Linked DNA regions of Homo sapiens: region 1 is linked to region 2. The links come from fine-mapping of genetic effects on gene expression. A gene starts in region 2. The other region holds a variant in brackets. All regions are shown on one strand. Distances are between the middles of the regions. Region 1 holds the start of ACOX2 (acyl-CoA oxidase 2). Region 2 holds the start of RPP14 (ribonuclease P/MRP subunit p14).

The links.
Region 1: its variant is fine-mapped to the expression of RPP14 in prefrontal cortex (GTEx, PIP above 0.99).

Annotation. Positions count from the first base shown.
Region 1 is chr3:58,532,859-58,538,374 of GRCh38, reverse strand. It overlaps ACOX2 (acyl-CoA oxidase 2), which reads left to right and starts at 1,185. Exons shown (of 15, transcript NM_003500.4): 1 at 1,185-1,256; 2 at 3,178-3,428; 3 at 3,853-4,015; 4 at 4,230-4,381; 5 at 4,823-4,930. The coding sequence starts at 3,269. LOC107984079 (a long non-coding RNA gene) reads right to left here and starts at 3,003. Exons shown (of 3, transcript XR_001740724.2): 1 at 2,061-3,003. The variant A/G (reference allele first, on the strand shown) is at 2,952.
Region 2 is chr3:58,303,328-58,308,327 of GRCh38, reverse strand. RPP14 (ribonuclease P/MRP subunit p14) reads right to left here and starts at 2,083. Exons shown (of 6, transcript NM_007042.6): 1 at 1,911-2,083. It overlaps HTD2 (hydroxyacyl-thioester dehydratase type 2), which reads right to left and starts at 1,808. Exons shown (of 5, transcript NM_001348712.2): 1 at 1,677-1,808. RefSeq lists enhancers at 1,518-1,647, 1,768-2,027, 2,218-2,297.

The DNA of each region.
Region 1 (5,516 bases), 230 kb before region 2:
CTTTCTCTATGGCAGAGAGGAACTAAGTCATTGCCCATGGTCAGTGATAGCATAAATCCTTGGCGGAGATGAGTCCAGGTGTAAGTAAGAACTTTCACCTCCAAACAGTGGGGCCAAGACCACCTTCCCTGAAACCACTGCCCACAGCAATGAGGACTGCCAGGAGTCTGAGCCCCACAGCTCCAGAAGGACCTACTAGGTGATAAGTTGCAAAGCTTGGGCCACAGGTCCTGCCTCTTCCTACAGACACAAGCTAGACACTACCTTGGGGATATGATGGGGTGCTGTGAGGCTCCTTACTGAGCAAATACCTTGCATTACAGGGGAGGCCAAGGCCCAGAAAGGAGTACACCTGCTCAGAGTCAACATAGCTCAGAAGTCCTGCCAGAACAGGAGCCTTGATCTCCTACTGGCCCCTTGATTTCTTTCCCAGTCTTACACAAATGTGTTACGTAATCTACTTATTGTGCAAACCCAAACAAAGTGACATCCCTCCCTGAGCCTGTTTCCTTACCTGCAAAATGGGGAGCCGCATCTGACTTTCCAAGGTGGTTATGCAGGGAGGGAACCTCTAAGCCTCTCATTCCTCTCACTAAGACCCAGCTCTCATCTGGATCCCACACACTACAGATGGATGCTTCACAAATATTTTTCCAGGGAATGTCAGGGGATGCTAAGCATAAGACAAGCCATATTTTAGAGCAGAAACATGGGGAGAGAGGAAAAACGTACACCTTACAGAGCAATCCTTTCACATGAGGACCATCTCAGGGGAGCCTATTAAGCTCGTGTGATATTAACAGCTTGAGTGCCTGAAGGGCACACAGTGAAAGATCAGGGAAGACCAGGATATCACTTTGGAAACACTGCTGGGGTACACAGCTTTTTGGTACAAGTAGTGTCAAAGGAATCCCTGGCTTTGAGATGTAAGGGCTCCAACCTCCCAGAAGTCCTCCCAGGGCAGCCCCAGCGACAGGCACAAAGGTCACACCCATGCAGGAAGAGAGGGAGGAAGGAGAGGAGCTCCATAAGCCCAGACAAGGGCTTGAGAGCAGACAAGGGCTTGAGAGCAGACAAGGGCTTGAGAGCAGACAAGGGCTTGAGAGCTGGCCAAGCAGTTTCTCTCAGCTTCTGTGTTCCAGCCCCTATGTGGGAGGAGAGAAGGGCAGGACCACAAGCCTGCCAGAGGCTGCGGCCTACAGCCGGGGAGAGGCCAGCCCGGCCTACAGTGCGGACACAGGACAGAGGGGAGCCAGGTGAGCCAGGTTTTTGGGCAGGGAGGGACTGGGAGACCCCAGAGGAGAGGGCTGCCCCCATGATGACCCTGTCCGCAGCTCCGAGAGACCCTGAGCAAGGCTTTCTTCACTGGGCACCTCCTGCAAATCAGGCCCTGCACTAAGTGTTAGGGTCACGGCATGACAGTGACAAAGATCCCGGCCCTCTTGCAGTTTCTGTGTTAGTAGCAGGGAGATGGAAGTAAACAAAAACATATGAAATGAGTAAATGATCTCAAATGTCAGAAGGGGATAAGTGAAAAGAGAAAAAGGAGAGCAGAGTGAGGAGGACAGGGAATGCCGGGGGAGGGGGCTTGGGGTTTTAAAGAGGGTGGCCTCTTTAAGGTTAAATGAGGTTCAATGCAAAAAGCCCTAGTGACATTTGAAGAAAGGGTGTTCTGGGCAGATGGAGATGCCCTAGCAAATGCTGGCAGTGGCAGGGAGGCCTGGAGCATTCAGAACAGCAAGGAGGCAGTGGCAGCAGAGCAAGGAAAAGAGGTAAGGCAGGACGAGAGGAGCCGCACTAGGGGCACTTGCAGGACTCCGGGGGGCAGAGGATGGGGCCCCTTGCCAGCACCCCCACAGCCCTGCTGGGGGTATTGGTTTGAAAGCCTCATATGAATCATTTGCTACATGTGGTTGCATGACCCTTATAAAGTCTCCTCCCTTTCCAAGGCCCACATCCTCTCCATAAAATGGTAATAACAGCAGTGCATCTGTCAGGTTGAGGTCAGGAAGGAAGGGGATCAAAAGCATGGCAGCCTGCCGGAGAGATTTACAACATACCTGCTGCAAGCTAGGAAATGCAGAGCTGGCCTCCCAGGCCTTGTGGGAGGAACATGTAAGCAAATAAGAACTTGTCCCTAACCCTAGAGCACCCAGGGAACGAGGGAGCTGAACTTTGTTCAGAGAGAACAGCAGGGGCAAAGGGTAGGAAGAGAATGAGTGGAGGCCAGGGATGAGGGCAGTAAGTTGACATAGGAGAGAGGTGAGTGGAGTAGGGTTGGGTAGACACAGCAAGGACTCCATTCCACAAACAGTGGGCCCCAAGGAGCAGATTCCAAGCAGGAGAGGAAAACAATGTGATTTGCAGTTCAAGAGTTCACCTGGCAGCTGGGAGAACAAATAAGAGGAACACTGAGGCCAAGTAAGAGATAACAGTGGCCTGGATGCTAGCCAAAGAGATAGCAAGGAGCAGATGGACTCAAGAGACTTGTGAAATAGGATGGACTGCACCTCATGGTTGCCTCACTGTGGAGGAATAGGGGCTTCTCAGAGGCCAAGCACTTGCCATGAAGGAGACAGGGTCCAACCTGGGTATGAAAGACACTCAGGGGCTCCAGGGGAACACTTCACAGGCAGGAAGAAGGCTTCCTCCCTTCAGTTCCACAATATACCTGCAGGGCTCATAGAAATGGAGCTGAGTGATCCTAGAACTTATGAGCAGTTTAATGAGACCAAGGTGCCCCCAGCAATCCTCCACAGTGGAGCTGTAGTATGGACAAGTCATGTGCTTTGTGGTCAGACCCCATCCAACTCCTGGCCATCTCCAGCTGTGTGGCTAGGGGCCACTCAACCTCTCCAGGATTATTTTCTTCAGGTGTAAGCTTCACTGACTTTTTTGTGAAGATTTCCCTAGGCAATTCATGTAACTCAAACTGCAGTGGATAGAGCCCA[A/G]TCTTTGGGGTCAGGCCCTGTCCAATTTTGGCTAACAAGTATTGAACAAACATGTACCAAGCAATGGCTGCATACCATGCCTACCATGCACACAGTGCCTGGTCCACAGCCAGTGTCCACAGGGGGAGTGGGGAGGTGGAGTGGCATTCAGGTACTTAGGGATGTCTTTCTTCTACCAACCAGCCCTGGCTGACACCCAGCCCTAGGCAGTTCCTCTTGCACACAGGTTCTTTGCACTGACCAATGCTGAGAGCAGACCCTCGGAGCAGCCGGGTTGGAAGTGTCTCTCCATAGTCACCAGACAGATCCAGGATAGGATGGGCAGCCCAGTGCACCGAGTGTCATTGGGGGATACCTGGAGCAGGCAAATGCACCCCGACATAGAGAGCGAGAGGTATATGCAGTCCTTTGACGTGGAACGGCTCACCAACATCCTTGATGGAGGTGCCCAGAACACTGCACTCCGCAGGAAAGTTGGTAAGGGGAAGCTGGGGAATGGGACATCTGTTTTATGCCCCATGCTTCTCTTGTAAGAAGAGTCCTTCATTAGCAGTTCTGCTTCCAAATAACAAACTTTGCCCTTGAAATTCCACTGTTAGAGATTCATTCCTTCGAACTGTAAAGACAATCTTCACATGTCAATATTGCCTGAGCCCACCTAGGGGATAGAAGAGTCCTAGGCAGCAGAAGACCTGGATTCTGGTCCTAAAATTCTGCCACTGCATAGCTTTGTAACCTTGGGCAATTCACTTTCCCACCTTGGTCCTCAGTTTTGTCATCTGTAAAATAACAATAATGTCTGACTTCCTTTCCAGATCCATGAAGCAAGTGGGTGAGAAGATTTCAAGGTGCCAGAAACCTCACCCAGGTCCCTAAGCCCTCTGTTCTCTGTCCTCTGCAGAGAGCATCATCCACAGTTACCCGGAGTTTAGCTGTAAGGACAATTATTTCATGACCCAGAATGAGCGTTATAAGGCTGCCATGCGGAGGGCATTCCACATCCGGTTGATAGCTCGGCGCCTGGGTTGGTTAGAAGATGGTCGTGAATTAGGCTACGCTTACAGGTGCTCACTCCTCGAGCAGCCCCACTAGAGAGGGATCTACCTGGGATCACCTGGAAACCCCCTAGCCCCATGAGCCATTTCCCCCAACAAAGGGAAGACTTGTTGGGAAACCAGGATGCTAGGTGCCCTTTATCTCCTGTACTCTGCTCAGGCAGGGGGTACCTGGGCCCCTGTCTCCAATAAGCTACTCAACTACAGCATCTCTCCCCAACAGAGCCCTTTCTGGAGACGTGGCCTTAAATATACACAGAGTCTTCGTGAGAGCCCTCAGGAGCCTGGGCTCAGAGGAGCAGATTGCCAAATGGGACCCACTCTGCAAAAACATCCAGATCATCGCAACGTATGCACAGACAGAGTTGGGACATGGTGAGCTAGGACTGCTGCGTGTGGTGTTTAGGTTGTGCACTGCAAAACTCCAGAGGGCCCATTTACATCTAGGTAGTCATAGGTTCATATGCTCCGAGGGACATATGTTTAATAAGAAAACATTCCAGCAGCTGGCAGTCAAGGGTCCTGAGGAAGGGGTGCCACCTTCTAATTTGCACGTATTGTATGAGCTCCCAGTGGGGCAAGTCATTCCTTCTGGAAACATCAGCAGCCACCCCTTCTCATGGACTGGCTATAGGGGACTGTGTGTCCCACACACAGCCCACAGATGAAAGGGGAGAACTGCCTGCAAGTACAGCTGGGAGCTGGGCCCCACTCCATACTGCGCTGATGCCTAAGAGTTCAGACCCACCTAGAAGCAGCTTCACAGGTAAGAACCCCACCTCAGGCCAATGTCTAACACCTCTCCTTGATCCTAAGGGACATATCTTCAGGGCCTGGAGACTGAAGCCACCTATGACGCAGCCACCCAGGAGTTTGTGATACACAGCCCCACGCTGACTGCCACCAAATGGTGGCCTGGAGACTGTGAGTATACATCCACCCCCCTTCCTTAACTCTCCCCAAGTAGAAGAATGTTGGAGGGCAGAGTAGCACTGGCTTTGAGGTCCAACAGACCTCAGATTGATTTTCTGTTCTAGGCTGCTGACCTTGGGCAAGTCAGTTCACCAACCTGAGCCTCAGGTTCTTACTCTGTAAAATAGGTGGGATATTAAACATTTCATTAGTGAGTGGCTGGAAAGTCCCCAAAGGAACTTTGAAGTAGAGGAGACAATCGATCCATGAGAGACAAGGCCTCACTCACACACACACGCACAAACACACACACTTGGTCTAGTCCTAGGCACTCCTCACAACCCCGGTTCCTCTCATCTCCCGAGTTAGTGGCAGAGCTTGCCACCAGCCAGAGCACAGGCCCTGTGATGACACAGTGGAAAGAATACGCCTGCCTGCCCCTGCTGCAGACACCCAGGAAGGCTCACGCCCATCACCAGCCCCCATCAGGCCACCAACGCCGTACCTCCTGCTGTGGCCACCAGGTGGCGGCCACATCAAGCGTCCCTGAGGCTTGGTGATTTACCAAGCCCCAACGAGGGATTTCCCCTTCCTCAAA
Region 2 (5,000 bases):
TGGGTGACAGAGCATGACCCTGTCTCCAAAACAAACAAACAAAAAATACTGTAATACTATGACACAAAGTAGGTATTCAAATGAGAGAAAAGTGATAGTGGTATAGGCCTATATATTCAAAAGAATCCTTGGTTTCAGGACAGCGGAAATAGTTACCTGATGCTTCTTTCCCAGTCACTAGAGTCTCCCCTAACTAGAAGGGCAGGGAGAACAAGAAACCTCATCTGTTTCTTTCATTGCTTGGCACATAAATGTTTTTTAGTGTTACTGCCTTGATGGAGCTGGCTGCCTAAAATAGGGGAGTGAAATTAGACCCAGGGCTTAGATGCCAGTAAAACGAAGACTTACACAACATTCACGAGATGGACAGTGGTGATGGCTGCACAGCGTTGTGAATGTACTCAATGCTACTTACGATAAATTTTATGTCACGTATTTTTTGCAATTAAAAAAAAAAAAAAAGACTTACAAATGACAGCACTGCCCTCTGCAGGCTGTTCTGACATTAAAGGAGAGGATACCTGGGAAATTATTTTGTACAGACTGGTATTAAATATATTCACCAGGCTCTCCACAGATGTGGGCTCACGAAGTTACTGTCATCGTCATCTTTAAAGTCAGTCTTGTTGTTTGTTTTGAGATGGAGTCTCACTCTGTCGCCCAGGCTGGAGTGCTTTGGGTCGAAGCAATTCTCGCTCCTCAGTCTCCTGAGTAGCTGGGATTACAGGCGTACGTCATCACGCCCAGCTAACTTTTGTATTTTTAGTACAAATGGGGTTTCGCCATGTTGGCCCAGGCTGGTCTCGAACTCCTGGCGTCAAGTGATCCGCCGACCTCGGCCCCCTCAAAGTGCTGGGATTACAGGCATGAGCCACCGCGCCCGGCCTAGAGTCAGCCTTTTTTAGTGGCTGCGCAGGGATGCTCCTAATCTGACCTATTAGTAATAAATCTGATTCTCCCTACTCCCCCGCTTCTCCATCCCTACGGCGGCCAGTGAGTCTATTAACATCTACTCAAGCTACATCATTCCTCTGCTCAAAATCTTGCTATGGTTCCCGTTTTATCCAGAGTAAGGCCAAAGTCCTTAGAGCAGCCTGCAAGGCTCTGCCTCACCTGCAGGACTGCTCCCTCTACACCTCTGACTTCATGTCCTGCCATTCTCCCTCCGCTCAATCCCCGCCACCACACAGGCCTAGCCTAGCTCTTTCTCACGCGCCAGTCTCGCTCCCACCGCTGGGCCTCGGCTCTAGCTTTTCCCCATGCTGGGAAAGATCTTCCTCCAGGCAGCCACCGGACTCACACCCTTGCCCCCTTCCTGGCTTAGCTCAAATCTCAATCGGGTTGGCCCAGTGCCCTTCTCGGCTAACACCGCACCCCACCCCCATGCCCCGTCCCTGCTTTCTTCTTCGTAGCATTTGCCTTTTTCTATGACAATTATGTAACTCGTTTATCTTTATCTGTACTTCCCCTCCCCACCCCAACAAAAGTCCACTCCAAGAATCTTGCTATCTTGTTCACTGCTGTTTCCCAAGGCCCTAAAACACTGGGTCGTGCACAGTGGGCGTGCGACGTACAATTTTTGGACTAAATCAATCACTTTAAAAAGCTCAATATCCTTACTGCTGAGCACTTGGGTGGCTTTCAATATTTTTCAACAACCACTATTTAGCGCTCACCTCGCGCCGGGCGCATGGAGAGCGCTCAGGACACGGTCCCGAAGTCTCGCCCGGGCCTCTCGGCCACGTTCTGCGGCCGAGACCCTACGCGGCGCCGTACAGAGGCCCTCAGCGCCCGGGGTCGGAGAGGACAAGCTACCCAAGGCGCACCGCCCGCCCCGCGCATGCGCCCGGGTCGCGGCCAACTGAGACGGCTCCCAGACAACCGCCGCTCTTTGGAAGGCTTCCACCTACCCACTCTTCGTCGGACTAGCCTGACGCCTGACCAGACTCCTATTCGCCGCAAGGACCCGCCAAGGCTTGGGGCTCCCCGGCAGCAGCCACAGCTGGGCCCGAGAAACTCCTGGTGTCTTTACGTTTGGCTTCTCCTCGTCCCGCCCCACGAAGCGTGACGCCCAGGCGGATATGACGTCACCACGCGGCGTCGTCCTAAGGACCCAGGCGCGAATCCTGATCCGGAGCTGAGAGCGGCCGAGCTCAGCGCCCTCTGGTGTCCACTCCGGGAAAGCCGTGTGTGCAATTTGCTTGGGGTGCGGTTTAGGGCGGGTTTTTTCCGCCTTGGACGGTGCTTCATAGTTATCCATTTCTTCATGCATTCATTCATTCATTCAACAATTTTTTCGTTGTTTTTTTGAGACAGTTTCACTCTGTCGCCCAGGCTGGAGTGCACTGGCGCGATCTGGCTTACTGCTACCTCCGCCTCCAGGGCTCAAGCGATTCTCCCACCTCAGCCTCCTGAGTAGCTAGGACTACAGGTATGCTCCACCATGCCTGGCTAATTTTTGTATTTTTAGTAGAGACGGGGTTTCACCATGTTGGCCAGGCTGGTCTCGAACTCCTCGCCTCAAGTGATCTGCCCACCTTGGCCTCCCAAAGTGCTGGGATTACAGACGTGAGCAACTGCGCCCGAGTCATTCTACACATTTTTTTCATTATATTATAATTTATTTATTGAGATGGAGTCTCGCTCTGTCGCCCAGGCTGGAGTGCAGTGGCGCCATCTTGGCTCACTGCACCCTCCGCCTCCCTTCAAGTGATTCTTCTGCCTCAGCCTCCCAAGTAGCTGGGACTACAGGCATGCACCACCATGCCCAGCTAATTTTTGTATTTTTAGTCGAGACGAGGTTTCACCATGTTGGCCAGCATGGTCTCAATCTCTTGACCTCGTGATCTGTCCACCTCGGCCTCCCAAAGTGTTGGGATTACAGGCGTGAGCCACCGCGCCTGGCCTAATTTTTGTATTTTTAGTAGAGACAGGGTTTCACTATGTTAGCCAAGCAGGTCTCAAACTCCTGACTTCAGGCAATCCACCCACCTCGCCTCCCAAAGTGTTGGGATTACAGACGTGAGCCACCGCGCCCAGCCTACAAAATTATATCTAGCATCTCCTCTCCTCAAGATCTCCTATGTCAAGCACTCCCCAAAGATAGGACCCACTCTCAGTGTCCCTTGTGACTCCCAGCACATAGTAGGTGTTCTATCTAGGCCGTCCTGGAAAGACCCACAAAGTAAAGACTTACTTTGTGCTAGGCACTATGCAAAATATTTTACATATGTCATCTCATGGAACCCTCACACAATCCTGAGATGGCTATTACTATGATCATCACCATTTTAGAGGTAGAAACTGAGGCACAGGCCAGGCGCAGTGGCTCATGCCTGTAATTCCAGCACTTTGGGAGGCTGAGGCGGGCAGATCACTTGAGGCCAGGAATTCGAGACCAGCCTGGCCAGCATGGTGAGACCCCCATCTCTACTGAAAATACAAAAATTAGCTGGGCACGGTGGTGCACACCTGTAATCCCAGTTACTCGGGAGGCTGAAGCAGGAGAATTGCTTGAACCTGGGAGGTAGAGGTTGCAGTAAGCCGAGATCACACCACTGCACTCTAGCCTGGCAACAGGAAAAGAAACTGAGGCACAGAGAGGCTAAGTTATTTGCTCAAGATCACAGTTATAAGCAGTGGCATGGGCTGTCTGATTCTAGCCAGTGCTCTCCATACTGCACTGTATTACCACCAATTGAGGGGCTGCAGTGGGAAGGGAAACTTTAGTGTAACCCCCATGAGGATGGGGCCTTGTCTGTGTTTCTCACCACTGCATCCCAGTTCCTGGTACCCAATGGTGACCCAACATCTATTTACTGAAGGCATTTGTTCATAAATGGATGTGCTGGTTTTGCTTGGGTTGGGGGGCAAAGGGTTGCCTTGCACAGGACAGTTGAGTCAGCGGGGATCTCCTTCCTCAATTATTTTCTCAAAATCCCACTGTGTTGTTTCCAGAAGCTTCAGTCCTCAACCTTGGCCATGCTCTCCAGTTCTGTGGTTCCTACTTTCTTCTTCCTTCAGAGGAGACAGGGCTTGTTCCAGATGTGGGAAGAGGTGGAGAAAGCAAACACAGACCCCACAGACCCAAGTATTATCTTTCTCAAAAAAGCTTGATTTCAGAAGCTGCCAGAACTTGCTTCAAATGCATCCTCTGCCACTTACCTACCTCCCTCATCTGTCACATGGAGAGATTATTAGCATCTACCTCACAGAGTTGAGGGAAAAAGAGTTGATGGTATAAAGTGTCTGGCACCCCAGGAAACCCTCAGTAATGGGAGAGGGTTCCTGTAAGCCAGCTGCCTGGCAAATGTATCCTGCCAGGTGGCCCAGGAAAACCAGAGCAATTCCTGTATTTTGAACTTCAAGGAACAATAGATAATTTTCACCCTGCTGCAACAAACCCTGAAAATGAAGTGTCTTCCCAGTTGCCTGAATTCTCTCATGCTGTCTTATTAATTCAGAGCGGAGGATAAAAGAGATGCCTTTGAATGATAAAGACAAAAAACTTGTTTTTTGGCTGGGTGTTGTGGCTCAGGCCTGTAATCCAGCACTTTAGGAGGCCGAGGTGGGCAGAACACCTGAGGTCAGGAGTTCAAGACCAGCCTGGCCAACATGGCGAAACCCTGTCTCTACTAAAAATACAAAAATTAGCTGGGTGTGATGGTGCGCACCTGTAATCCCAGCTACTCGGGAGGCTGAGGCAGGAGAATTGCTTGAACCCAGGAGGCAGAGGTTGCAGTAAGCTGAGATCACGCCACTGCACTCTAGCCGAGATGACAGAGCGAGACTCTGCCAACAAACAAAACAAAACAAAAAACAAAAAAAAACTTTTGTTTTTCAACTAAATTTTATATTAAAAAATCGTTTTTGGACAGTGTCTCACTGTCACCCAGACTGTAGTACAATAATGTGATCATGGGTCACTGTAGCCTCAACCTCCCAGGCTCAACCGATCCTCCCACCCCAGCCTCCCAAGTAGCTGGGACTACAGGTGCATG